4 linked regions of the Homo sapiens genome follow. The protein of the gene in region 3 interacts with the protein of the main gene of each other region in a biochemical or structural test. Each region holds a gene or a part of one and is shown on either strand. Other genes may lie near its edges. The genes, in order: GRAP2, MAP3K3, GAB1 and PLCG1.

The links.
Region 1: the proteins of GAB1 (region 3) and GRAP2 form a complex in vitro, tested with the Homo sapiens proteins (2 studies listed by BioGRID and IntAct, with this or other methods).
Region 2: the proteins of GAB1 (region 3) and MAP3K3 form a complex in vitro, tested with the Homo sapiens proteins (one study listed by BioGRID).
Region 4: the proteins of GAB1 (region 3) and PLCG1 form a complex in vitro, tested with the Homo sapiens proteins (2 studies listed by BioGRID and IntAct, with this or other methods).

The regions. Positions count from the first base shown.
Region 1 is NC_000022.11:39,896,175-39,904,101, reverse strand, and holds the start of GRAP2 (GRB2-related adapter protein 2), read right to left. Parts: upstream 3,019-7,927; 5' UTR 2,864-3,018; coding exon of another isoform or gene 2,772-2,863; intron 1-2,771. UniProt on the Homo sapiens protein: Interacts with SLP-76 to regulate NF-AT activation. Binds to tyrosine-phosphorylated shc.
Region 2 is NC_000017.11:63,617,929-63,625,428, reverse strand, and holds the start of MAP3K3 (mitogen-activated protein kinase kinase kinase 3), read right to left. Parts: upstream 3,013-7,500; 5' UTR 2,670-3,012; coding exon 2,666-2,669; intron 1-2,665. UniProt on the Homo sapiens protein: Component of a protein kinase signal transduction cascade. Mediates activation of the NF-kappa-B, AP1 and DDIT3 transcriptional regulators.
Region 3 is NC_000004.12:143,339,847-143,346,881, forward strand, and holds part of GAB1 (GRB2-associated-binding protein 1), read left to right. Parts: intron 1-3,613; exon of another isoform or gene 3,614-3,689; intron 3,690-5,209; exon of another isoform or gene 5,210-5,289; intron 5,290-7,035. UniProt on the Homo sapiens protein: Adapter protein that plays a role in intracellular signaling cascades triggered by activated receptor-type kinases. Plays a role in FGFR1 signaling. Probably involved in signaling by the epidermal growth factor receptor (EGFR) and the insulin receptor (INSR).
Region 4 is NC_000020.11:41,175,527-41,178,145, reverse strand, and holds the end of PLCG1 (1-phosphatidylinositol 4,5-bisphosphate phosphodiesterase gamma-1), read right to left. Parts: 3' UTR 520-2,619; downstream 1-519. UniProt on the Homo sapiens protein: Mediates the production of the second messenger molecules diacylglycerol (DAG) and inositol 1,4,5-trisphosphate (IP3). Plays an important role in the regulation of intracellular signaling cascades.

The sequences.
Region 1 (7,927 bases), on a different chromosome or scaffold from region 3:
CACTATCTCCTTAAGGTATGTCTTAACATTTTCTTTGGAGAGTATATAAGACTTTTATCATCATGCACTTCGTGATAGTTTCTTTTAATTCTCTAAAATTTTTGTTTATAAATACATATTTAAAAAGAAAACAATCTTTAAAAATTATTTACTGAATTCCTACTGACTCAAGTTTATTGAAACTTAATGTTAACACTGTTGAAGAGGACTTGGTGCCTAGTGCCAGGCCTGGCATATAGTAATTGATCGATAAATGTTTGTAAAATGCTTATTTGTTAAACAGGACCATGCTTTCTTAAGAATTTTTAAGAGAAAAGAAAGGGCAGGCCAGGTGTAGTGGTTCACACCTGTAATCCCAACACTTTGGGAGGCTGAGGCAGGCGAATCGCTTGAGTTCAGGAGTTCAAGACCAGCCTGGGAAACATGGCAAAACCCTGTCTCTACTAAAAATACAATATTAGCCAGGTGTGGTGGTGTGTACCTGTAGTCTCAGCTACTTGAGAGGCTGAGGTGGGAGGATCACTAAACCCAGGGTAGTTGAGGCTGCAGTGAGCTGTGATTGTGCCACTGTACTCCAGCCTGAGTGACAGAGTGAGACCCTGTCTCAAAAAAAAAAAAAAAAAAAAGACTCATGAGGCTGTGTTATTATCATTATTATTATTTATTTTTGGAGATCTGCCCACCTCGGCCTCCCAAAGTGCTAGGATTATAAGCATGAGCCACCGCGCCCAGCCAAGGCTGTGCTATTTCTTTACAGACCAAGGTATGCTGGGCAAATACCTCAAATGGACAAAATGGGGACCTAGCGACCCTATTGTTTGATTCAAACAACTTATAAAGATTCTTTAACAAGTTTTGAGTTTGTTTGATAGGGGCACAAAAATGAATCATCTGCCCCCAGGATTATCCAGCAGCAACTGTTACTTATTTAAGAAATCGTGATGGAATCACACTTACTGACACATTTTCGAACAATTGCAGACTTTTCTTGACCCAGGAAAAAAGGGCAAGTTCTACTCAAGCTTAGGCATGAACCCTGTCAGTCATCAACACCAGTGGGTGTTATTATCTGGGAATCAATAAATATGTTGGAACTAGGATCATTTTCAGCTCTTCTAGGAAGCAATAGTTCTAAAAGAGATGGCTTCAGGAAATAAGTGAGAGACATTTTGTATAAGAAGTGGGAAGAAAATGATCAAGAGTCAAAGAAACAACTAATCATGATATCGCCTTGCATTTTTATAGAGCCTTTTTCCTAAGGCACTTCATATCTATGTTAACTCATTTATTCTTACAACATCCCTACGAGGTAGACAGAACAATTGAAAGGGATTTTCACCAGGGCCTAAGATGTGGGAGATATTCAAAAGGATATTGTATTAGCAACAGAGATATTTCTTCATATTGAATAGATTGATCATCTCCTTCTCCTCTGCTTCAGTAAAGTCATTTTTAAAAAGATAAAATCTATTACAATTTGGGGAGAATAAGATTTCAGTTTACCACATGGGAGACACTCCAAGTTCAATCTAAAAAAGCAGTTTTATTCAATAATATAGGGCCACCTCTCTTTTACAAAAAAACAAAAAAGGGTATGAGTCAGATTTTTTTCGTATTTGAAAATTAAATATACTTAGGTGGTCCTCTATTTACACAGTGTTCCTTATTTAATAGCAGATGGTTTTGTAAAGAGAATCACTATAAAATTATTCTATAAAGTTTTACATAAAATACTGGATTGTTAAAGGAGAGTAACTTCTGCTAAATACTCTTTCCGAAACCAAAAATAAGAAACAAAAAGGAGCCACTAAAGAACTAAACCGTTTATGACAAACATTGCTGCATAGAACAAAAGATTCTGCGACCTGAAGTTTCCCATCCTCAGATAACATAACGAGAACACACGAAATTTTTCCCATTGGATGTTTAGATCTAAAACACTTCCCACTCCTAGTTTATCTAGGGATGTGTATGTTCAATAGTGTGCAAATTATGCTGCATACACTTTATTAAGAAGGCCTAATTCCAGGTAGATAAATACGGTAAATTTTTTTTGACAGTATACCTGTCAGGGCAATACAGTACATTTTAAATTAGTGAAACCTTTGGTTGGTATGTTCAATCCTCACGTTCAGGAAGAGTTGGGACAAAGAACACAAAGCAGCTATCTTCAGACTGGACGCCTAAACCAGAGACAGTCATAGGGATGGAGCCTAACGGCTAGTACGAAGAGAGACAATACCCTTCCAAAATACACTTCAACATAAAGTTTTCTTTTCGTAAAGGAATGAAAACTGGTGTCCTTTGTACAGGTAACAAAAATGCGAACAGAACTAGAAATTCAAGCAAAGAGAGAAATCCTGACCTCAGAGTGCTAGTGTTCATTCATCACTGCTCAGCCCTCTACCACCCCCTCCAATCCCTTCCAATTTGGATTAAATTCTGACCATGGTGAAGTGGAATTTTACCTCCATGATCCCAAGGTCGAAAATCTTTCCCTGAGATGCTTCTGAAGCCAGTTTGTGGAGATTTTTGTGTTATGGACTGGGTAAGGAACAAGTGTTCTCCCAGTTCATTTGATAGAAGTCAAATCCCATCACCACAAACATTGTCACAGCAAAAGGTTTAGAGACCTTAGCTGATGGGACTTAAAAGCAATATTTAGAGAACTAGTGAGATTCATTTTAATTAACTCATACAGAACATTCTGCAAATTATAAAACTGTTCAAAGTTTCTAGAGTATATGTACAGATGTTGTATAATGACATACCTTTTGGAAGAGAAGGGGTTGAGTTTATGTCTTGGCTTTGACACCGAGTTATTAGAATCCTTTCTGGCAAGAAGGGAGACAAATTCAAGCATCAGAGTTACTGCATTTCAGAGTATGGATCCACTTTGTGCTGTCTTCCATGTACCACTCTGAAAGAGGGTGCAAGTTTACAGATCCATTAACTGTGCCTCCTCCTCCCCACCTCTTACTCCCTCCTCCAAACTAACCCTAGTCAGCCCTGCAGTCTGTAGGCAAACCACACAGGAACTAGCACATATGGGGCTTCGGAGAGTTGGGCGTGAGCCTTAGATTATGTGGTTTTGTTTTCTTGCTGCCAGAGTTGAACTAAAATGCAGGAGGTTCACTGAAACACTTTTGCTTCTTTATGCTTGGTTTCAGTTTTAACAATATCCCCCCTGAACACTTGTGTTCACATAAGAAAATTTATAGTTCTTGATATGGTCCATCAGCAAGCTGATCTTAAGGAAAACTCTTATTCTCTTAGTATAATCATGCATCCAGAGGAACATTAGGGCTTCTTGGGGGAACTTATTTAAGAGCACCCTCGATCACTCACAATGTTAAAATCCCAGGAAAGATGCTTTGTTCATACACTCAGCCTCTAATATTACTCTTGACAAAAAAAGAAGAAACATTCTGAGCTGGGATGCATTCTCACCCCAGGTTTGCCACAGTCCAGCATGAGGTGGAACCAGTTCCTTCAATTTCTGGGACTTCAATTTCTGTTGAGTCTTAGACTGAAGGCTTTCTGGGATTTAAGACTTTCCATTGACCTTGAGTTTTGTTACCTTCAACTTCCTTAGTTCTTACCTTTAAATGTACCACTCACCCTTCCCCCTATATCAACTGCAACTTGTGAAGGCCTCTTCCTTTCTCTTTGCTCTTGCTAGAAAATGGATTGCCAACGTTGCATCTTTTACAGAAAATTAGAGACATTGCTACTTGCTAAGTGGCACCATTCAGAGTTTGGGGACTGGATCCAAGATGAGGAGGGAAATGTTGGCTCACTGGGATGTTCCTAGCATTAATCCCTGGAATACCAAGAGGAGAGTGTCAAGGAGAGATTCAATTTGGGGTTCTAAAATTTAAACTTTTTCTGCAATGTGAAACGGCATCCTTTTCCATCTCTTTGCTTCTTTATATCTAAACCTTGCTTAAAATTTACTTTCTTAAAACCTTTTCCTTGGTTATAATTGCCCAACATTTTTATTGAAATAGAAAAGAAGAATCAGCAAAGTGTCAAGGTGACAGAAAATGCTCAGTAAATATTTGTCGAATGAGTTAAAGGAAGTAATTTTCTATCCATAACTCCTTTTTTTTTTTGAGACGGAGTTTCACTCTTCTTGCCCAGGCTGGAGTGCAATGGCATGATCTTGGCTCACTGCAACCTCCGTCTCCCGAGTACAAGTGATTCTCTTGCTTCAGCCTCCCAAGTAGCTGGGATTACAGGTACCTGCCACCATGCCTGGCTAATTTTTTTTGTATTTTTAGTAGAGATGGGGTTTCACCATGTCGGCCAGGCTGGTCTTGAACTCCTGAACTCAGATGATCCGCCCGCCTCAACCTCCCAAAGTGCTGGGATTACAGGCATGAGCCACCGCACCCGGCCCTGTAGCTCCTTAATAACAGGCTTTCTTTTTATTAATGCAACTTTGTCAAATTTTCTTAAATCCTGGTTATATCTGAAAAGGATCTCTGCTATTTCCACATTATAAAGATAAAATTTAAAAATAACAACATCTTGCTACTTTAAAAATAATAACGTCTCAACCTTGACCTCAGAATTATTCAGCCTTCTAAGGACCTTCTTGGATCATTACACTGAACAGCTCTATTGCCAAGTTTTTAAATGCTGAAATCCTCTGGCTACAGTCCTTATTCTTTGATAGCTCCCAAGTCGATGGTTTTGAAATGGTTAAAGGAGTCCCTAAAATTCTATGGTTGGGGAGTGGGAGCGAAGGGAAAATGTTGAATGGTGTTACATGGAAAGTATCATGGTGTTTTCAGCTTGTACCCTAATGAGGAAGCTAATTTTGCACCAGGCACTACTCCCCAGGGAGCAGAATATAATCCTTCCCCTTACAAGCATGGGACAGATTGCAGAACAGAAAAATCTCAAAGGCAAGTTATTTTGGTAGTAAGTACTGATTGACAGACATGTTATGTAGAGCATAGTGGGAGGGAAGCAAGGCCACTTGAGTGGTTTATTTCATAACAGCTCTGTAACTGAACGAGTGCAAAGGCAGATCCTAAGAATAAAGACCCTAATGTGAGAATGCCAGCATTTCAGTACTCACTATCATGAGATACTCAGAAAAATAGCAGCAAGATGAGGAGGATACAGTAACATGTGAAATATGGACTTAGCCACAGTGGAGAAGTTTCTTTTTTAAACCATACTTTGTTTAAAATTTTTTTAATCAATTCCTTTTGAGGGGTCATTTGTTTATATCTGAACTTCTGTTTTGTTTTGTTTTTTGTTTTATTTTGTTTTTTGGAGACTGAGTCTCGCTCGGTTGCCCAGGCTAGAGTACAGTGACGCAATCTTGGCTCACTGCAACCTCCACCTCCTAAGTTCAAATGATTCTCCTGCCTCAGCCTCCCGAGTAGCTGGGATTGCAGGCACCTGCCACCACACCCAGCTAATTTGTATATTTTTAGGACAGCTGAGGTTTCGCCATGTTGGTCAGGCTGGTCTCGAACTCCTGACCTCAGGTGATCTGCCCACCTTGGCCCCCCAAAGTGCTGGGATTACAGGCATGAGCCACTGCGCCTGGCCAATATCTGAACTTCTTGCCATAATTATGCTCAATTTAACTTTATGGTAAAATATGTACTTCTTATTTAATAGTGTGCATTCAGACATTCTCGTTTCATTTATTCAATAAATAAAGTTTGAACACCTACTCTGTGTTAGTCCTGTTCTAGGTGCTGGAAAACTATCAGTGAACAAAACATAATCTCTGCCCTCCTGGATCTTACATTCTGGTAAAGGGAGAAACAGAAGGTACATCAGATGGTCCTACTGTTAGGGAGAAAAATAAAATGATGCAAGAGCCACAGGGAGTGTGGCTGAGATGGGGGTTGCGATTTTACGTTGGGAAATCAAAGGACATTTGAGCAAAGTCTAGAACAAAGTGAAGAAGCCAGTACTTCCTGGATGGACATCTGGGGAAATAGCTTTTGCAGGTATAGGGACTAGCAAGTGCAAAGACTTCAGGTGGAGACATGTTTAACACTGTGAGTGAGGTGGAGAGGAGTTGGGATGGAGATCAGAGAGAGAGCAGAACATGTAGGGCCTTGTTGCCATGGCGAGGCCTTTGGATTTTACTCTGAGTGAGATGGAAGCCAATGGAAGATTTTGAACTGGGGAGTAGTATGATCTGACTTGGGTTTTAAGTTTTAAAAGGGTAGCTCTGGCTGTTGTGCTGAAATTAGATAGCAAGGGAGCAAGAACAGAAGAAGAGAGACCAGTTAGGAGCCTACTGTTGGCCAGGCATGGTTGGCTCATGCCTGTAATCCCAGCACTTTGGGAGACTGAGGCGGATGGATCACCTGAGGTCGGGAGTTTGAGACCATCCTGATCAACATGGAGAAACCCAATTTCTACTAAAAATACAAAATTAGCCAGGCATGGTGGCGCATGCCTGTAATCCCAGCTACTAGGGAGGCTGAGGCAGAAGAATCGCTTGAACCCGGGAGGCGGAGGTTGCAGTGAGCCGAGATTGCGCCATTGCACTCCAGCCTGGGCAATAAGAGCAAAACTCCATCTCAAAAAAAAAAAAAAAAAAAAAGAGGCTACTTTCATAGTCCAGACCAGAGATGGTTGTGGCTTAAAACAGGATGATGTGAGTGGTGGGAAGTGGTTGGATTTTGAATATACAGGGTGATCATAAAGTCTAGAAACATAGATAATGTTATTGTATCTTGTATTAGAATGTAGCATCAATAAATCATTTATTATCTAGACTGGGTAGCCACCTTGTATTTCAAAGGTAAGCTCATGGATATCATGAGAGCTATAAGAGACAAACACAGGAGTTAAGGTGACTCCCAGGTTCATGGCCTGAGAACCTAGAAGCAAGGATGTGTCATTTACTGAGACAGGAGAGACCGTGGGAGAGAAGGTTTGGAAGGCAAGACCAGGAGTAGAGGTCAAGGTAGTTAGATACACGAGTTTGGAGGTCAGGAGAAGCTGAAGAGAAAACCTTGAGAGTTGTCAGAATCGAAGAGTATTTACCGCTTTGCAAGTGGATAACACTACCTGTGGAGTGAATATAGATAGAGAAGACAAGAGGTTAGAGAATGGGCTCCTTCAAAGTTGAGAGGTCATAGAATTGAGAACGGATGAGTCAAGGAGATGAGAAGGAGAAATGGTGTCCGGGAAGTCAGGTGAAGCAAACTGTGTTCACTTTTATAGAACCTCAAGTTCAAAAAATTAAAGGAGAAAACCAACCAAGCTACCATAGAGCAATATTTGTATTTAGTGGATGTTACGGTATTGCAACTAAATTGTGCCCCCAAATGGAGGAAAGCAGATAAGAAGGACCCCTTACATATTGTCACTTGAACAGGGTTAATTCCACTAAGCTGGTAACACTTGACACTTTTGCCAAGCCTAACCAACTCCCTCACTGTTTATTGGGACTTCAGTCTTTAATCTTACCCTGTCTCCTACTTCCCATCTGCCTCCTCAATCACCTTCTATATGCTGACTACTCTGAAGTCTATGAACCTAGCCCCAAACCCTCTTCTTTCAGTTATCTCTATTCAACTGTCCCCTGAACATCTCCCACCTGTTGCTCAGATTCAAAATGTCCGAAGCAGAATTCCCCAGCTTTCCTGCCAAACTGACCCCTCGGATCATGTTCATCTTGGTGAACAGCAACAGTCATTTACTTGGTCACCCCAAAAAGAAACTTAGTCCCTGTAGACTCCTCCTTCTCTCTCATTGCCACATATATTCAGAGCCCGATCCCATAACTGCTACACTTTAACATTACATGTAAAAGTATATGTGTGAGGAGAGTGAACAGAGTGGAGATTCACACTATGCCCATGACCTCTGCCTTAGTTATGGCCTTCATCACTTATTGCCTGAACTATCAGAACATTCTGTTCTTCTTCCAGTTCCT
Region 2 (7,500 bases), on a different chromosome or scaffold from region 3:
CCACATAAACAATCTCAGGTATTATGAACAGCATTTGCCACTATGATTACTAAATCTGGAAATGAATTCTGGAGTGACCAAGAAAAAACAACCAGTCAATCCCAATTTTTTATAGCCACATAGTATCAAAGCAAAAAAAAAAATTTCCTATTATTTACAGAGATAAATAATTTCCACTAGAAATTCATTGGGGCTAACAGACAATATAAAATCTGACATGTTTTTATTAACCCAAGTTGTCAAACAGGCTTCAGTCTTGGGCTTAGAACAGCTCAGGAAAATGTGACTGTTACTTAACCAAAGAACCTGCAGGGCAGAGACTCAAGTTTTAGTCCTTTCTTCATGAGGCTGGAGTTTAACAAGTATAACTAAAATACTAAGAAGTCTATGTTTCTCTCTTATCAATCCTTTGAGTTTATTTAGAACTACAGCAACTAAAAGCAAACTAACTAAACTGGAAATTCAAATTTTCATCACCAAAATGGAAACTAGTATTTAAGAGAGAGACTGTGTGTGAATGTATCTGTGTATACATATCCTCAATGAGCTCTATACAAAGCAAATTGAACAGCCAGGTGTCAAGAAGAATTCAATATTAGCTCTAACAGTGTATCAAGGTCATCTACTTTCCCCTCACAAAAAAGATGGAGAGAATTGTATGGGGGAAAGTGAAGAAAGCTAGGGCAGTGGTTCTTAAACTAGCTTGCCTAATATACTGCAGCCACCAGGGAAGTTAATTCCTCTTGCATGTTCCTTTTACATGTGTCTTCACGTAAAACTGACAGGAGGACAACTGATGTGGGGACAAATGAGAAGATCCTGAGGTCCTGGCCCTTTTTTCTTTGGGGCTCTAGACCCAGCCTATATAGTTTCCTTCCTCCCCATCATTGGTCTCCATATACTCACACACTTATAAACTTTTTGAAAATGTCTTGAAATGTGAAAACAGGTTCATATCTATTTTCATGTTAGATAATGAGATGTAGTCAACACATGTGGGCACTCTAACTGGTGTAGCAGTCAACAAAGTAGGAAGTGGATGGTCTACATACCCTTAAGTATTTCACACTCTCCTTTGGGACTAACAGCTGCCCCCACAGGACAAGAAAAAAGACTTGTAAGAAAGACTATCACAATACAGGCTCATAAATCAATTCGAAGATTTATTCAAAATCTATAATACAAGATAAATGTTTGAATCCTGGGGTAGACAAGAATTCTGTGTCTCATCTATAAAAAAATTCAATAAACATTTCTTCAATTATATATTTAAATACCAGGCCTTACTGGGTTCCTTTTATGTCCACTCTCACAGCAGACCTTCCCTCAGAAGAGCACGCACTTCTGAAGGAAAGCATGAGAAGGAAACAGTAAGCCCAGCAAATGAACAAACCCTTCTCATACTGTATGAGGGACAGCATGAACTAGAACAAGGCAATTCATTCAAAGCCAGGGTGTAGAGATGGGTCACAAAACAATATCTGGCGAATTTGACATAGCGTACAGTTAACCTCCTACAAAAAGGACTTGACCTTGCTATAGGGCAAGGCAAACATTAAGGCTCCCTCTTCACATGGGGCACTTCACAGAAGCAACGGAACGTTTTGCAAACGATCCTCTCACTGAAGTTTACCCTTTTATTATTATTTAGGGCAATACCAAATATTTTGCAAAACTTGTGACAACAGTATCACAACACCTGTCTGGGCAGGAGAAGTAAAGAACGTTTAAAATGTTATTTCTTAGTCTAGTCCAGTAGTCATTTGCTAAACTACCAAAAAGGATATGGAATATAATTCAACTCAAATGCTACGTGCGGAAGACATTAAAAGCTTTCCTTAGATTACATCTTCACAGTAGAAATTGTAAATACTGACAAAAAGGAAGTGATTTCAGAGAAATTCTTTTGTGTAGCAAATGTTTCTTTCAAAAGTTACATAATTTCAGGGATACCGCAAGAAAAAAATAATGGATTAAACCCCTGCAACGGGATTTTTCAAAAAGTAGGATGTGAATTCTAACTGGCAGCATCCGACCAACTCCTGACCCCCAGCAATCTGCGTGCAGCACGCATTTGTCAACCGCGCGCTTGATCACAGCTCCAGTTTAATCGCCTCCTAGCCGAGCCCCGCACGCCCTCCCCCCTGCGCTGGGGCGCGCACAGGGCTGGAGAGCAAGCCCCGGGAACTCTCACAGGCCGGCCTGTGTGAGCAAAGGGAAGGAAATGACACAGGCAGGAAAAAAAAGCAAATCAAGGAAAAGACACAACAGCAGCTGGGCCTGCGGCAGCCTCCAGCCCGGGCCCCACACTGCGCTCTTGCTCCCCCGCCCTCGGGCTCGCGGTCCGGCTCGTTCGGACCAGGCTGCCCCGCGGAGCACGGGCCCTCGGTCCCGCCGCCGCTTCCCCGGGATGCGCCCGCCGCGCCGCCCAGAAGGAGGGCTGCCGAGCGGGCTCTGCCGGCCGGGCCGCCCCGCGGAGCCAGAACCCCCGCCCGGGCCGCGGCGCGCGAGCGGGGCGGGCGGCCGGCCGGCCGGCGGTCCGCAGCCCCGGGCCGGGCGGGCTGTCCATGCCTGTCAGGCGGTGGCCCAGGGTCCTCCTCCCTCAGCCTGGGGCGGGGCGTCGCGAAGCAGCGCGGGCACAGGCCGGGGCGGTGGCGACACTTACCCATGGTGGCGATGGCGGCGGCGGTGGCTAAGGTCCGTGAGTGTCACCTCCGCAGCCGGGGCTGCATGCCGGGGGCCCGGGCGGCGGGGACGGCAGCGGGCCTGGCTCCGCGCGGGGGGCGCGGGCTGCGCTCTGGGCCCCCGCCGCCTCCCCAGGCTCCGGCTCCGGCTCCGCCCGCGGCCGGGCGCTGTGGCATCGGCAGGGTGGCCCGCTACATCCCGGGCGCTCCTGGGCTCGGCCCAGCCCGGCCTCGGCGGCGCCGCTCGGCCCGCCCGCCCGCCAGTCCCTCAGACCCGCAGTCTCTCCGTCCGGCCACCGTTCTCCACCTCAGGAACGCTCCGAAAAACAAACCGCTGGTCGCGCAGCTCGCCCCCCTGTCTGTCACTCACGCCGGCCCCCACCAATCCCAGGCAGCCGCTGGGCCGTCGCACCACCCCCACCCACCTCACCAGCCAATAACAAGAAGGAAGTCGGCAGCCCCCGCCGTCCCCCTCCAACTCTCTCCCAACACCCTAACTCTCAGCGGCCAGCTAATCATCAGCACCACACGATGAACCAATCCCGCCTACTCTCACAGGATGCCAATGGGCGAAGCCAAGGCGGTTTCCGAGGGCTGTCTAGCGCCTGCCAATCATCGGGACAGCGCCCGGCTCCCTGCGCTGTTAGCCAATCACGTAGAGGCCTCTAAGCCCCCGCCTCTGCGCATCCCTCTCTGGTGCTGTCTCCCTCTCTTGGGAGAGATTGGGAGGTGTTGGTTGTTCCAATCACAGCTCCGGCGTGAGGCTCCGCCCACATTCCCACCTCCCGTCAGTCACCGAAGGCTCGGCGGGCGCGCGGGCTGGCGCAGTTCCCCGCCGGCTACTTTAGGGCTGGGGTGAGGAGTAGGCGGCTGCAGGGGGCCCTCAGGCCTTCCGCCCTCCGGGTTCTCGGAGGCCCCAGCGATCTGGGTGGTTCCAGAGGGTGGCGTCCTGCTCCTCCCCGTGCCCAGCACAGGGCGTGTAACGAGTGGGGAGGGTCTGGCCTGAGCACTTCCCGGCGCGCGGCCACCTCTGCGGCCCCATCCCCCGACTGGTCCTCCGGTCCCGACGCTGCTCTTGCCCCGGGCAGGGGCGGCCGGCCCAGCCCAGCTTTCCCTGTCTCACACCTCCAGGGCCACACCCTCTGGTCTAGGTACCTCAGACACCCGAGGCTGGGATAGTGCTGGCATGTGGGTCCCTGGAAATCTGAGTTCCGCCAGAGGTTCTTTCAGAAAATAACTTTTTTCTTATAAAAGCAACACGAGCTTTTTGTAGGAAAATTGAAAAATGCAGAAAACTATGAAAAAGAAAAGATCCCACCCCAGAGATAATCTATTTCCTACCTAGATAGGCGTTTGACAAAAATGGCTTTGTATTGTTTTGTAGTATGCTTACATTTTATTCTGTTTTCCCGTGCCACCAAATATCCTTCCAAAACAATTGTACTGATTGCATGATGTTTCAAAATTAAAGGCACCATAATTAATTTCCCCAACCTTTTCATTGTTCAACATTTTATACACTCAGATCTTCAGATTCCAAGTCCACCACAATTAATGTGGGCTCCTTTCTCCGGCCTCTGTTCCAGTGTAATATGTCAGGCTCCAGAATAATCTTCCTCAGATGTCATTGTCCACTGTCCACTAAGAACATTTAGTGGTGGCTTTGCCTTGAGTGTCAAATCCCTTAAGAATTACCTTGGGCTCTCCCCTATTTCTTTTCTTTTTCTTTTTTATTTTTCGAGATGGAGTCTCACACTGTCGTCCAGGCTGGAGTGCAGTGGCGCGATCTCGGCTCACTGCAACCTCCGTCTCCCGTGTTCAAGCAATTCTCCTGCTTCAGCCTCTCAAGTAGCTGGGATTAACAGGCGTGCGCCACCACGCCCGGCTAATTTTTGAATTTTTAGTAGAGACGGGGTTTCGCCATGTTGTCCAGGCTGGTCTCGAACTCCAGACCTCAGGTGATCCGCCAGCCTCGGCCTCCCAAAGTGCTGGGATTACAGGCGTGAGCCACTGCAAGCAGCCTCCCTTATTTCTTTACACTCATCTCCGTATATTTAATCAGCCCCCTTGTCCTGTTTTCTTTTTCTTCCAACAAGCTTAAGCCTGCCATATTCCCACTTGATTTGGTCTCTACCCAGTTTACTGGAGTTCCTTAACTATAATAATCTCTATTCTTGAAAGCGGGGATAAAGGGGAAAGAAAATTAGTATTTATCAATATAACAGGCACGTCATTGCATTTAATTTTTCCAATAACTCTAAGGTTATTATGCTAATACTGTGGGCATTTAAATGATGAAAGTGAAGCTTAGAGAGGTTAAGCACTGTGTCCAAGTAGTGGAGCCAGGATTCATACCAAGCCTGTGTGACTCCCAAAGGCCATGTTCTTGCACTAGGCCAGTGTTTCTCAACCTTTTTTTCATTATCCACCCCTGCCAGGAAAAAATTTTAATTTAAATTACTTAATTAAATTTAAATTCTCCCTAAGAAGAGAAATTAAATACTAAGGAATAAGATTTTGTCAGGTAGAGTAGAGCCTTTGTAAAAAAAATTTTCTGTAGAGTTGGGGGTGTCCCACCATTTTGCCCAAACTGGTCTCAAACTCCTGGGCTCAAGCAATCCTCCCACCTCAACTTCCCAAATTGCTGGAATTACAGGTGTGAGCTGCCATGCTCCTTTCTGTTTTCCCAATTGCTAAAGCACAGATGCTGCTCGACTTACCATGGGGCCATGTCCAGATAAACCATCAGATGAACAATCGTTAAGTAGAAAATGCATTTAATACACCTGACCTACTGAACATCATAGCTTAGCCAAGCCTATCTTAAGCGTGCTCGAACACTTAAGTTAGCCTACAGTTGGACAAAATTATCTAACACAAAGCCTATTTTATAAGAAAGTTTTGAATAGCTCATGTAATTTACCAAATACTGTACTGAAAATGAAAAACAGAATGGTTGTACTCAAAGCACAGTTTCTACTGAATTGTGTGTTGCTTTTGAACCATCATAACGCCAAAAATCATAAGCTGAGGCCGGGGCACAGTGGCTCACACCTGTAATCCCAGCACTTTGGGAGGCTGAGGCGGGTGGATCACTTGAGGTCAGGAGTTCGAGACCAGCCTGACCAACATGGTAAAACCCTATCTCTACTAAAAATAAAAAATTAGCTGGGCGTGGTAGCGCACACCTGTAATCCCAGCTACTTGGGAGGCTGAGGCAGGACAATTGCTTGAATCCGGGAGACAGAGGTTGCAGTGAGCCAAGATCATGCCATTGCACTCCAGCCTGGGCAACAAAAGCAAAACTCCATCTCAAAAAAAAAAAAAAAAAAAAAAGGTATAAGCCGAACCATAGTAAGTCAGAGACCCTCTGTACAAACCTAGGAGTGTTCCTTGATTATTCTCTCTCCCTGACACCCATATATCCAAACATGCAGCAAATCTTTTCAGCTCCCACTTCAAAATGTATCTGAATCAGGTCGGACGCAGTGGCTCACACCTGTAATCCCAGCGCTTTGGGAGGCCAGGGCAGGTGGATCACCTGAGGTCAGGAGTTCGAAACCAGCTTGGCCAATATGGTGAAACCCCATCTCTATTAAAAATATAAAAATTAGCCAGGTGTGGTGGCCTGTAATCCTAGCTACTTGGAGGCTGAGGCAGGAGAATCGCTTGAACCTAGAAGGCGGAGGTTGCAGTGAGCCGAGATTGTGCCACTGCACTCCAGCCTGAGCAATAGAGTGAAACCCTGTCTCCAAAAAAAATACAATAAAAATACACACACACACACACACACACACACACACACACACACACCTGAATCCAACCACTTCTCATCCCACCCCCCTTATCCAAGCCACCACCTACTCTCCTGAATGACTGCCCCAGACTCCTATCTGGCCTCCATTGTTTCCTCTGTGGCAGCCCAACAAATGATTCCCCAATAGCAACCAGAGTGATCCCTGTAAAATGTAATTCAGATCACGCCACCCTACCCCCTGCCCACTGTCAGCCCTCCAATGGCTTCCCTCCCATCACACTCAGAATAAAACCCCAATTCTTTGTCATGACCTGCCAAGCCCAATAGGAGCTGGCCCCTCCATCCTGTCCCTCCATCACTGTCCTCTAGCTACTCTGGCCTTCTTTCCATTCTTTGAAACTACCAAGCCAAGATGTTCTCATTTCTGCAGTTTATTCAAGTCTCTGCTCAAACGTCTGCTTTTAAGTCATTTCTTATCACCCCATCCAAAATGACCCCTCCCTTCCATCATTCTGTATTTGTATATTTTTTCCTTGTTTTTTTTTCTCAGTGGCTAAAATTATATATTTATTTGTTTGCTCTACTCCAACTACCACAAACATAAGGTATGCAGGAGCAGGAATTTTGTCCTGCTTACTGCTCTATCACCAGCACTTAGAATAGTGCCTCACACATGGAGAACCGCAGTACATCTACCTGAGTCTTTAGCTGAAAACAACCTTCTGATTTACCTTCTACCTTTCTTACAACTGCCTTCTTTGTGGCTTCATTTGCACTGTCGGTGTCTCAACCAGCCATCTCAAACATTCCCATACTGCAGTTACCATATGCGCTGAGGATTCCAGAATCTCAACTGTGTCTCTAGCTCAGGGATGTCTTTCTTCTGAACTCCACAGACATGGGTGTCCCACAGGAACCTCCAATTTTGGGTCCAAACTGAAACCATTTTCCCCCATAGTTCTGTATTTTCTCTGTCCCTCTCCAGTTTCCCAAGTTGGATACCTTCGAATGATCAGATAGCTCTTTCTCTCCATTTCTTTCCCCCACAGCCAGTCTTGA
Region 3 (7,035 bases):
CAGGAGGATGAATGTGCCTAATAGCTTGGGAGAAACTAGGATTTTCTTTGCCTGGTGTAGCACTGGTGTTTTCTTTACCCACGAATAAAGTAGATGGAGATAGTCCTGGAAGACAGTAGACAGGGCGGCTGTCAGAATAGAGGAAACCAGCATGGAGTGTAATGAGTTAAATAAGGCTTATTTAACTGTCAGGTTAAATAAGGCTTGTATTTTACCTGTCAGGTTGGTGGCCCAGAAGATTTTGACATTCCCAGATTATTGATCTTTTGGCTTTGCTGTCCAGTTTAGATGGTTTTTGCTAAAGTAGCTTTGACCATCAAAGATATAGACATGTATACGTGCATTTCCTATGCTTGTTTTTTTTATGTAGAATGTTTATTTTTCTGGATAAAGGAAACATTGTTGGCCACCCAGTAGGCAAAATGTTTGTGGATAATGATTTGTAATGAATGGATTTGCTATGAAAAGATATCTTGGATGCTTGATACTATAATTATTAAATGAGACTTCAGGGAGTTTGAGCATCATGATTCTGTTTGGAAATATTTGGCCCATGGGACTTTGACAGTTGTCTCACTGTTTACAGCATTTATAGGGTAGTCCGAACACTGATTAAGATGATCCATAAGGGCTTTTAAGTGACAAAAAAATTGTTTTAGTTTTTTTTAATTAATTTTTTTTTGAGATGGAGTCTTGCTCTGTCACCCAGACTGGAGTGCAGTGGCACTATCTCGGCTCACTGCAACCTCTGCCTCCCAGATACAAGCAGTTCTTCTGCCTCAGCCTCCCCAGTAGCTGGGATTATAGGCATCCCCCTCCACACCCAGCTAATTTTTGTATTTTCAGTAGAGATGGGATTTCGCCAGGCTGGTCTCAAACTCCTGACCTCAGGTGATCCACCCACCTCAGCCTCCCAAAGTCCTGGGATTACAGGCATGAGCCACCACGCCTGGCCTTAAATTGTTTTAGTTTTAGCTTTAAAGCCATCTCATATATGGCCCCCAATGTATTCCATTTACAGCTCCGTTTTATGTTTACTGTTTCATAGTCAACTCAAGCAGGATTGTTTTTTGTACACGCTAGTGTGTTAGTCTGATGTGTAAGCTTTTCTTGAATTTTCTAAAGAATGACACACAAAAAAATGAAAGTCAAGAGTAGTCAGCAGATTCCCCAGCTTTTCCTTCTCTTTTTAATTTTTTCTATATTCGCAAAAGGTTCTTTCTTGTATGTGTTTCATTCTCCTGGAAGTTTTTAAAATCTACTTAAAATGTAGGTGAAAATTTTAATGCTTCTTTTCAGGGTTGCTACTGTGGTGTTGCTGTTTTCATGCTGTGTTATATATTAAACAGCTGCTTTTTTACTTTGTTAAGGACCTGATGGAATCATAAACAGATTACTGTCACTAGGATTACAGAAAACAAGTAAAGTCTTGGTAGTATGCACTCAACAATGGTGCTCAGATTTTTAAAGAATTATTTAAAGAAATGATGGTGAAATTTTCATCAGAACCTGAAATTTTAGCTGAAATAAGATGCAAGTCTGTAAATAAAGTATTGTTTCAAGACAGCTGGCTACCACCATCGCTCTGGAGGAGGAGCTTCCTTGCCTGAAGCCCAAACACTAAGTTTGGGCTCCTCCATAGCCCAGCTGTCAGCATTGGGCAGGTGCACAATCTCAGCAGGAGAACCTGCTTCTGAGGCCAGAGCAAGGTGGCCTGTTAGCTGACAGCCAGCCTGGTAGCAAGGCCCCAGCCAGTTCTTAGGTAGGTAATCTGTACCCAGCGTGGGCTCTCTGTCTGCTCTGCAGCTGTCAATTAACAGGACAACTCTTGTCTGGACTTCAAAAACACACCCCTGGTTCTGGAAATGGGCCTAGAAACAGAAATAGCCTCTCCTACTGGGTGGGCACCTGACATCTGACATGGAGGAGAGGGGCGTGGGCAGGCCAAGTGTCAGCATCTCCTTGGTTCAAGGACAACCCAGGACCTGTGCTAAGCATGAAACCCCTGCTCAATAGTGTCACTACAACAAAGAGGACTGTCATGTCTAGAAGCTCTTCCTATCCTTTTTTGACAATTACCACTAGCAATCAATGGATTCTGATGTTTCTGCTTACAGTGACTGAATAAGCATAATTATTCTATTGAAGGAAATTTTTTCTTGCCATCCTCATGTTAGTAAACATAATTCAGACTCCCAATGTTTTTACCTTTTCAAGTGTAGCAAGAATGTTTTTTCTGTTAACAGAGATCATCAACTTGCAATTACATTAAGCCTTTATGATGGTTAATGATAGTTCATTTGTTGTGCCTGGGCTGAATGATAAGTGTAGAACTCTCCACGTGCAACTTGCTGAATCTCCAAATCTGATTGCTACCTTTTGAGATTCAGAATTACTGTTAGGAAGGTGCATTAGTTTGGAGGGGGTAGTTTGAGAATTCTGCTGGCTCTTTAAAATTATTTTTTTAAGAGATCATCTTGGAACAAAAAGTGGCAAGAGTTATAGTTGGATAATCTGTTTGACAAGTGACTGGTTATTTCAGTGTATTTTGCCATAACCTGCTTAAAAATGTAAGGAGTAAAACACACAGCGTTTTTTGAGAGTAAGTAAAATCCCATATTTTAGACTTAACATAAAAATATGTAGATAAGCTATTGACAATTTGCAGACTGAGAAAGTTTCAGAGGTGATAGATTCTTTTTTTTTTTTTTTTTTTTTTTTTTTGAGATGGAGTTTCGCTCTTGTCCAGGCTGGAGTACAATGGCATGATCTTGGCTCATGGCTCACTGCAACCTCCATCTCCCGGATTTAACTGATTCTCCTGCCTCAACCTCCCAAGTAGCTGGGATTACAGGCTCCTGCCACCACGCCCGGCAAATTTTTTTTTTGTATTTTTAGTAGAGATGGGGTTTTGCCATGTTGGCCAGGCTGGTCTCGAACTCCTGACCTCAGGTGATCCGCCCGCCTCAGCCTCCCAAAGTGCTGGGATTACAGGTGTGAGCCACCGTGCCCAGCCAGAGGTGATAGATTCAAAACATGTGTTAGGTACTCAGCAGTCCTAATTTTCTTACAGAGACTGACAGCCAGAAGGAGCATTGTAGTAGATGGGCTACTACTTTACTTTTGAAGAATTTTGTATTAAAATGTAATTTGATGCACCCACTGATGCTTTTAGTGGGGATGTTTTGCTATAGTGGAAGGAAACTCAGACTGAGTGTCAGGACCCGGATTCTACTTGGTTTTGCCATTACCCACCCACAGGAGCATTTGACCATTCTGATCCTCAGTTTCCTTACCTGTAAAATGGGGGAGGGAGGAGCTGTAGATCTTCAGCAGAAGCCCTGTTGCAGTTTAGCGTTCCTCTTCTCAGACATTTTCTTGGGTGGAAGGGACAAATGGGGAGCTCTTCAATAAGCTGCAACATAAATTTTTGGGGGACATAAATCTTCCTTGTGGGGAAATCTTTACTATTTATCTTAAATAGTTTAGTGACTGCTTAAGCAGTATTCTTTGGGGACTCTTGGTTTTTAACTGAAGGCAGACCTGCATGCAGGGCCTTTGGCTGCTGTGCTCCTGGGCTGGGTGCTGTGTCTTGAGCCCCTGTGCAATGCCTGGCTCAGAGTAGGAGCTCAACAGATGCCTGTTGACTGAATAATAAACAGGTATCGCAGGAGCTTTTGTTATGTGCCATGTGTGGAATGCAAGGAAGGAAAGGCCCACTCTCTGCCCTTAAGGAGTTTCTAATCTGTTTGTGAAGACAAGCTGTCAGTCATTTTATAGGAGCTATGATATATGATTAGTTGCCAAATGAAAGTTTAGAGTGAGAACAGGGGATGCAGGGGTACGAGATGCCAGGGAAGACTCCGCAAATGAATTTTACACTTTGCTTTTAGAAGAGCTGGTGTACTGCTGGCAGCAACAGCAAAATCTTAAGGGAGGGCTGGTTTTAAAGGAAGAACAAAGATTTGTGTTGAGTTTAGATGTCCTCATGAAAAAAACTGCTTCCCAGCACCCCAGTTTCATGTGAGGAGTTTGGCTGTCAGCTGTATCTTCTAGTTTGAGAAGTTTTTGTTTCTGCTAAGATCTAATGTTCCTCATGGGTTCCTGAGCACAAGTGAATTTTCTGCATCAAACTAGAAATGAACAAAACAACTTGTTTGGTCACCTGAACTTATTAAAATTCCAAGGGACATGAGTTGTTTAAGATTTCTTTATGTCTGTTTTAAGCTAAGTAATTCATTCTGGCAAGCAGTTAGTTTACAACAGAGAGGGAGCATGTTCTGGTGGGAGGGAGAATAAAAGAGCCTTTGATTCATTTGCTTCTGAGTTCCAGCAGCAGGACCAGGGCTGCCTTGGGCTAGCGTCTTATTTCGGACTTTGGAAGCCATCTTAGCCCAGCTGTGTGAGTGCCAGCTCGTGTTGGGGGGGAGAGAATAACACCAACGGATCACATGAAACCCCCTCTCCCTGTGGATGGAGGGGTTTCTCTCATTTCACATTCCTCGCATCAACATGGCGCCTAATTTCCACCAAGTTAGAGCTCCATCTGAATTTGCCATTTGAACTTGGATTGAAGTCACGATCTTTCTGTGACTCCTTTTATCTCAGTCTGCCAACTAATACAGAAAACTTATCAAGTCACAGTTCTCTTTATTCTCCCCTCTTGGGGTATAACACACATAAAATTAGCATTCTTTCTTTTTTATATTACCCCTGGCAAAAAGTGGCCCATTGTACTGTGGATTTCCATATTTATTAAATAACTAGGCTCTTCCGTTGCCAGTGGGATGGCTATAGGAGCCTCAATAAATTGTAGATGACAATTTAGGCCTGTAGAATTGCTGAGAAAAGTCATTTTTAGGAACTGGAATTTTTTGCTCATTCTAGGCTTCTATGTTTGAGCATCTTAAATAATAGAAGAATGCCCTAACTGGAAAAAAGAATCATTTCTCTTTTAAGCAATTCACTTATTCATAGGAGCGAAGTTCTCCCTAGTTTAAAAGGTCGCATTACTGAATAAAGTACACTATAACCTAAGAGCTTTTGACCTTCTCCCAGCCCGTTTTTAAAAAGAATTAAGACTATGCACTGTAATGCATGTTTGGTTGTTATCTCTGTTACATTAGCTCTTGAAGCATTCTGATTACAACTTGTAGCTGCCAAGCCCTGTCCTGCAGTATTATCTGGAACAAAAATTTTCCATGTGGTTGTTTTTAGCAGAGCTACTATATGCAAACTGCACGTGAAGGATATAAGTTATAAAGGAATAGAGCTTCTAGAAGGAGAAATGTGAGTTAACTTTTTTCTACCATTTAATCATTCTTTCCTCACCTCTTAGTGTGTGTTTCAATAATGTTTATCATCTTTCTAAACTGAGTTTTCTTTTATTTTTATATATTAGAAAGAATGCCAAATTTACCAAGTGCTTTTCTGATGGTGGTTTTCTTTTCTCCCAGCTTTTTACTTTGAATTCATACTTGGCCTAGGTAGTTCTCTTAAGTTATGTGTTCAAAAAACAATGTCCTAAGAGGAAAAAACAAATGGCCACATTGTCTCATGAATTAAAAACAACATACCAAGAGTCCAAACATTTCAATGTAAAAATATTAAGCCTTTCTTTTTTTAGGAAGACAAATATTAAACTTTGCTTTAACTATCCTGTTGTTTTTCCTTTCCCTTTTTTATTTATTTTCTTTTGGTTTGACTCATGTAGTTTAAATTTATTTTGAAAACAGCTTTATACATACTTCTTTAAGAATACTGCACGTAGGGGAAAGCATCAAACTTCCATTTTACATTTCAAGAGAAAAGTGAGAGGAGGCCATCCTCCTGTCAGAAGAGGGGCAAAATGTCAAATAATACCAAGGTCTTCTAACTTACTTTTACATTGCTTGGTTATTTATCATTATTGCCTAGAGATATTTAGCTATTTAAACATGAAATAAGCAGGTAAATGTAATTTAAGTTAAGCAAGTTTCACATTTGCTTTTGTGAAACGAAATCCTGGACATAAGCATTGGAAGAACTCAACTCATTTTGTTGTAGTTTTTGTTTTAAATAGAAAATAGAGACAGGGTCTCTACATTCCCCAGGCTGGTCTTGAACTCCTGGCCCCAAGTGATCTCTTGCCTCGTTGTAGTTTTTATTGTTGTATTTAACTCATTAGCCAGCCAGTTGTTGTAACATTTTATTTGCTAACTTTTTAAATGAGAGGAAGGTAAAAGCACTCTGTGCCATAGTTCCCTACTCTCTCTTTTCCTATTCATTTCTGCTTCTCTGTGATATAAGCCTAGACATCAAAAATCACAAAATATTTGTGTCCCAATCTTTACACACACATTCTTTCACGAAACTTTTCTCTAAAAAGAGAGTGTTAATTTGTGTCACTCTTACTTAGTAATCAAGAATAGAAATAATAATGTTCCAACTAGCATGTAGATGTTTTTCTCTCCTGAAATGCAGCTTTTAGTTACTGCTGTATTGGGAAATGTGGTTAGGCCACTTTCTGACTGGCAGAACTCCTCCCTGAGATGACTACCTGATGAAAGAATTACCTGCCTGTGTGCCTTCCCAGTTCCAGTCCTTAGCACATTCCCATCACTGCTGTGGCCAGAGTTGGAGTTGCCAAGACTAAGGTGCTGGTGGAGGGATGACTCCTTGATTATCGAGAGAGAAGTGCTTTAATCTTTGACTTTTGTAAGAGAGATACTAGGTAAAAGCTACCTTCAGCGTTTTGAATTCCAGTGCTGTTGTGTAGAGCTTGATGAGGAACGATTACCTCATTCAGCTAGGGAGGTATTTTTTGAACCCTCTACCCTCTGGCAAAGTTATAATTGACCCCAAAGTTATGTAGGATTATTTACTTTACATGTTCTTGACAGTTTCAGGTTTAAATGTTTGAAGTGTTGAGAAAAGGTAAAAGGAAATATTGAACTCCTAATAATGTAAAATATTTGGGAAGGTACTTTGTTCCTAGTGATGCTGTTACATAAAACCAAAGCCTTCTGAGTAATCTTTGCTGGGTATGTAGGTCAT
Region 4 (2,619 bases), on a different chromosome or scaffold from region 3:
ATAGCCTGTCATTTGCTGGGGCGGTGTCGGGGGTTAGGGAATATGCATAAGGACCCAGGGGCTTTCTGGAGGAAAAAGACTAAAGCCCCAGCTTCTAAGACCCAAAGCATTTGAATTTTGTTGGGGTGGCCCTGAAGGCCTGGGACAGAAGGAAAAAGGGTCCTTTGAAATGAAATCACCTACAGTGGAGCCAGGCAGTGATTCTGGACACCAGAATAGGAGTCCAGCTTATGTCATGGGGAAGCAGCTGTGTGTGTTGAATCCCAAAAACCAGGTCCTTGGAAACTAGACCAAACTGGCATGCAACTGGCAAAGCCAATCAGCTGAATGCTGTAGTGGGTAGACTCAGGCAGTGACTCACTTGGGATACTATGGGTGGAATTCGCAGGAGCGGCCAGCCAGGGGGGTTGCTGTGGGGTTCCTCCAGGCAGGGAACAGAATGCCTAGATTAACCCCTAAGCACAAGTCCCCTGGGAATTACTAAAGTACCCAGAGAAGACAGGAGTTGCAGTCTGAGACTGTGCTTGATCCATTTAATTAAAATGTGAAGAAGGCATGATCCTTTCATTCACCGAGTTAGTCTGGTGGGATAACCTGAACCTATTTGCTTTCTACCCACCCTCAACAGAACTCACATGGTGAGTGATGGGCTCAAGTTGAAAGACAAGTGAGTGTCTAGGTCCTTAGTGATGTTCAAGCTCTCAGGTGATGTTCAAGATGTGCTTGGTCAGGAGGCAGACCCCTGCCTTTTCTGCTCATGGCCACAGATACTCAACTGAGGTCAGAAACTGCTCCTGCCATCTTCCCGCAGGGCAGTCTTTAGTCCTGTGGCGGGGGCAGAATGCCCCTGACCTTGTAGGCTCTACTTTGTATGTGTACATGTCTGCTGAGCCAAAGCTGTTGAAAGTGAAAGGTCTGTCACTTTGAACCCAGTCTACTTGTCCCTGGTCTGTCAGCCAGAAGGTTCTACTGGTGATGGCAGGAGAACAAGGAGCCTGCAAGGGAGCCCATCTACCTTCTGGTACCACTGACTTCCCTCTCCCGGCCCTGCCTGCTCTTTTGGTTTGTGCTGCCAAAATCAGGGTTTTTCAACCCTTGTTACTCATTTAAATCACCTTGAGAGGTTTTGAACAATACCTATGCTAAGGCCCCGGGTACCAGTATTTTTCAGAAGCTCCCCAAGTGGTGCTAATGTGCTGTTAGGGTTGAGACTCCACAGGTCATAACCCTGAGCTGTCGCACTGTAGGGACACGGCCTGCATGCATGGGATGGGGCAAACAACTCCTGATGCCAAAGCATTCGGCCCCAAGTAAGGGTCTTCCCCACCAACAAACACTCTGCCTTCTGGGTCAATCAACATTTGTCAGGTCTGGAGGAATCTTGAAGTGAAAATGATCTTTAAATTTGCTTGAGAGTTGGCACGTTTTCCACTAGGAAGAACAATCAAAACATTTGCAGTGAGGCAAAGGCAATGTCTTACAGAGCCCAAGAGAGGTGAGCCTCAGGTCTACAAAGCTGCCTTAAGAAAGGCAGAGCTGTCTGTTCCCCAGGTTGTGTTCCAGAAAGACACTTGTTCAGCAAATAGAGATACGTATTGATGAAAACTAAAAGGGTCAACACTAACAAACACGCCAAGGACGTCCTAACCAACGTGGATGGGCCCTAACAGAAGGGCCTACACAGTCCTCTTCCTTCTCTGATAGGAAACCTTTCTCTCCAGGCCATAAAAACCTAGAGAGGAAACATGGATCATGAGGGCCCAGGTGAATTCCCACCCACCACCTTCTTGTGTATGGGAAAAAGCCACCCTCCTCTCTATGAACTGGGACTGTGAAGCTGTAAAAGAAAGTCACACAAGAACCTGAGCACTATCGCTGTTTGATACTGGCTATCATCAGTTCATGTCATCCACGGAACCGGATCTATCTTAAATTTTTTGTGTGGCGTCATTTTTGTTCCATCCCAGCACAGCCAACTATGGAAACAGAGCTTCAGGAAGAGAAGGGCCTTTCAACTGTGTTGAAAGGGCCCAGAGATTTCAGCTGCCAAGTCCTAGAGGCAATCAGAATGGCACCTGGCAGTGTTAACGAACTGAATGCAACATTTTTGAAAGGAGAGGTTTCTGTGGAACTGGAAAGGGGCTCTGGTTGTTTCCAGCTCACCACCAAAACTGGCTGGCCACAAAGAACCCAGGCAGGATGTACTCTGCTCAGACACACCCTCAGAGGGTGGGCAGGAGAGAGTGGACCCACAACTCCTGTTAGCCCAGAGGAGGGGTTACAGCTCTTGCTGCTTAACCTGAGAAATTTCCAGAAATTTCCTACCTGCTTCTACTGCAGAATAATCATCTGGCGACTGTTTCTAGTGAGCATGTCCCATGCAACAGGCTTTCCTGAGCCCCCGAAAGAGCATACAAGTCAAAGGAAAAAGGACATGAGGATGATTTATTTGGCAGTCAGATCTTAAGAGGGCAGCAGAACTAGCAAATGGCCAACCCTGAGCCCAAATGTGGGCAGTAGGTTTGTGTGTGCTGAATGCTGGCTATGCTATGAGGCACCTTTGCGCCCACGGGCCTGGACCCCGGCCTCTGTCCTCAGAGGTGAGGGCTGCCTTTCTAA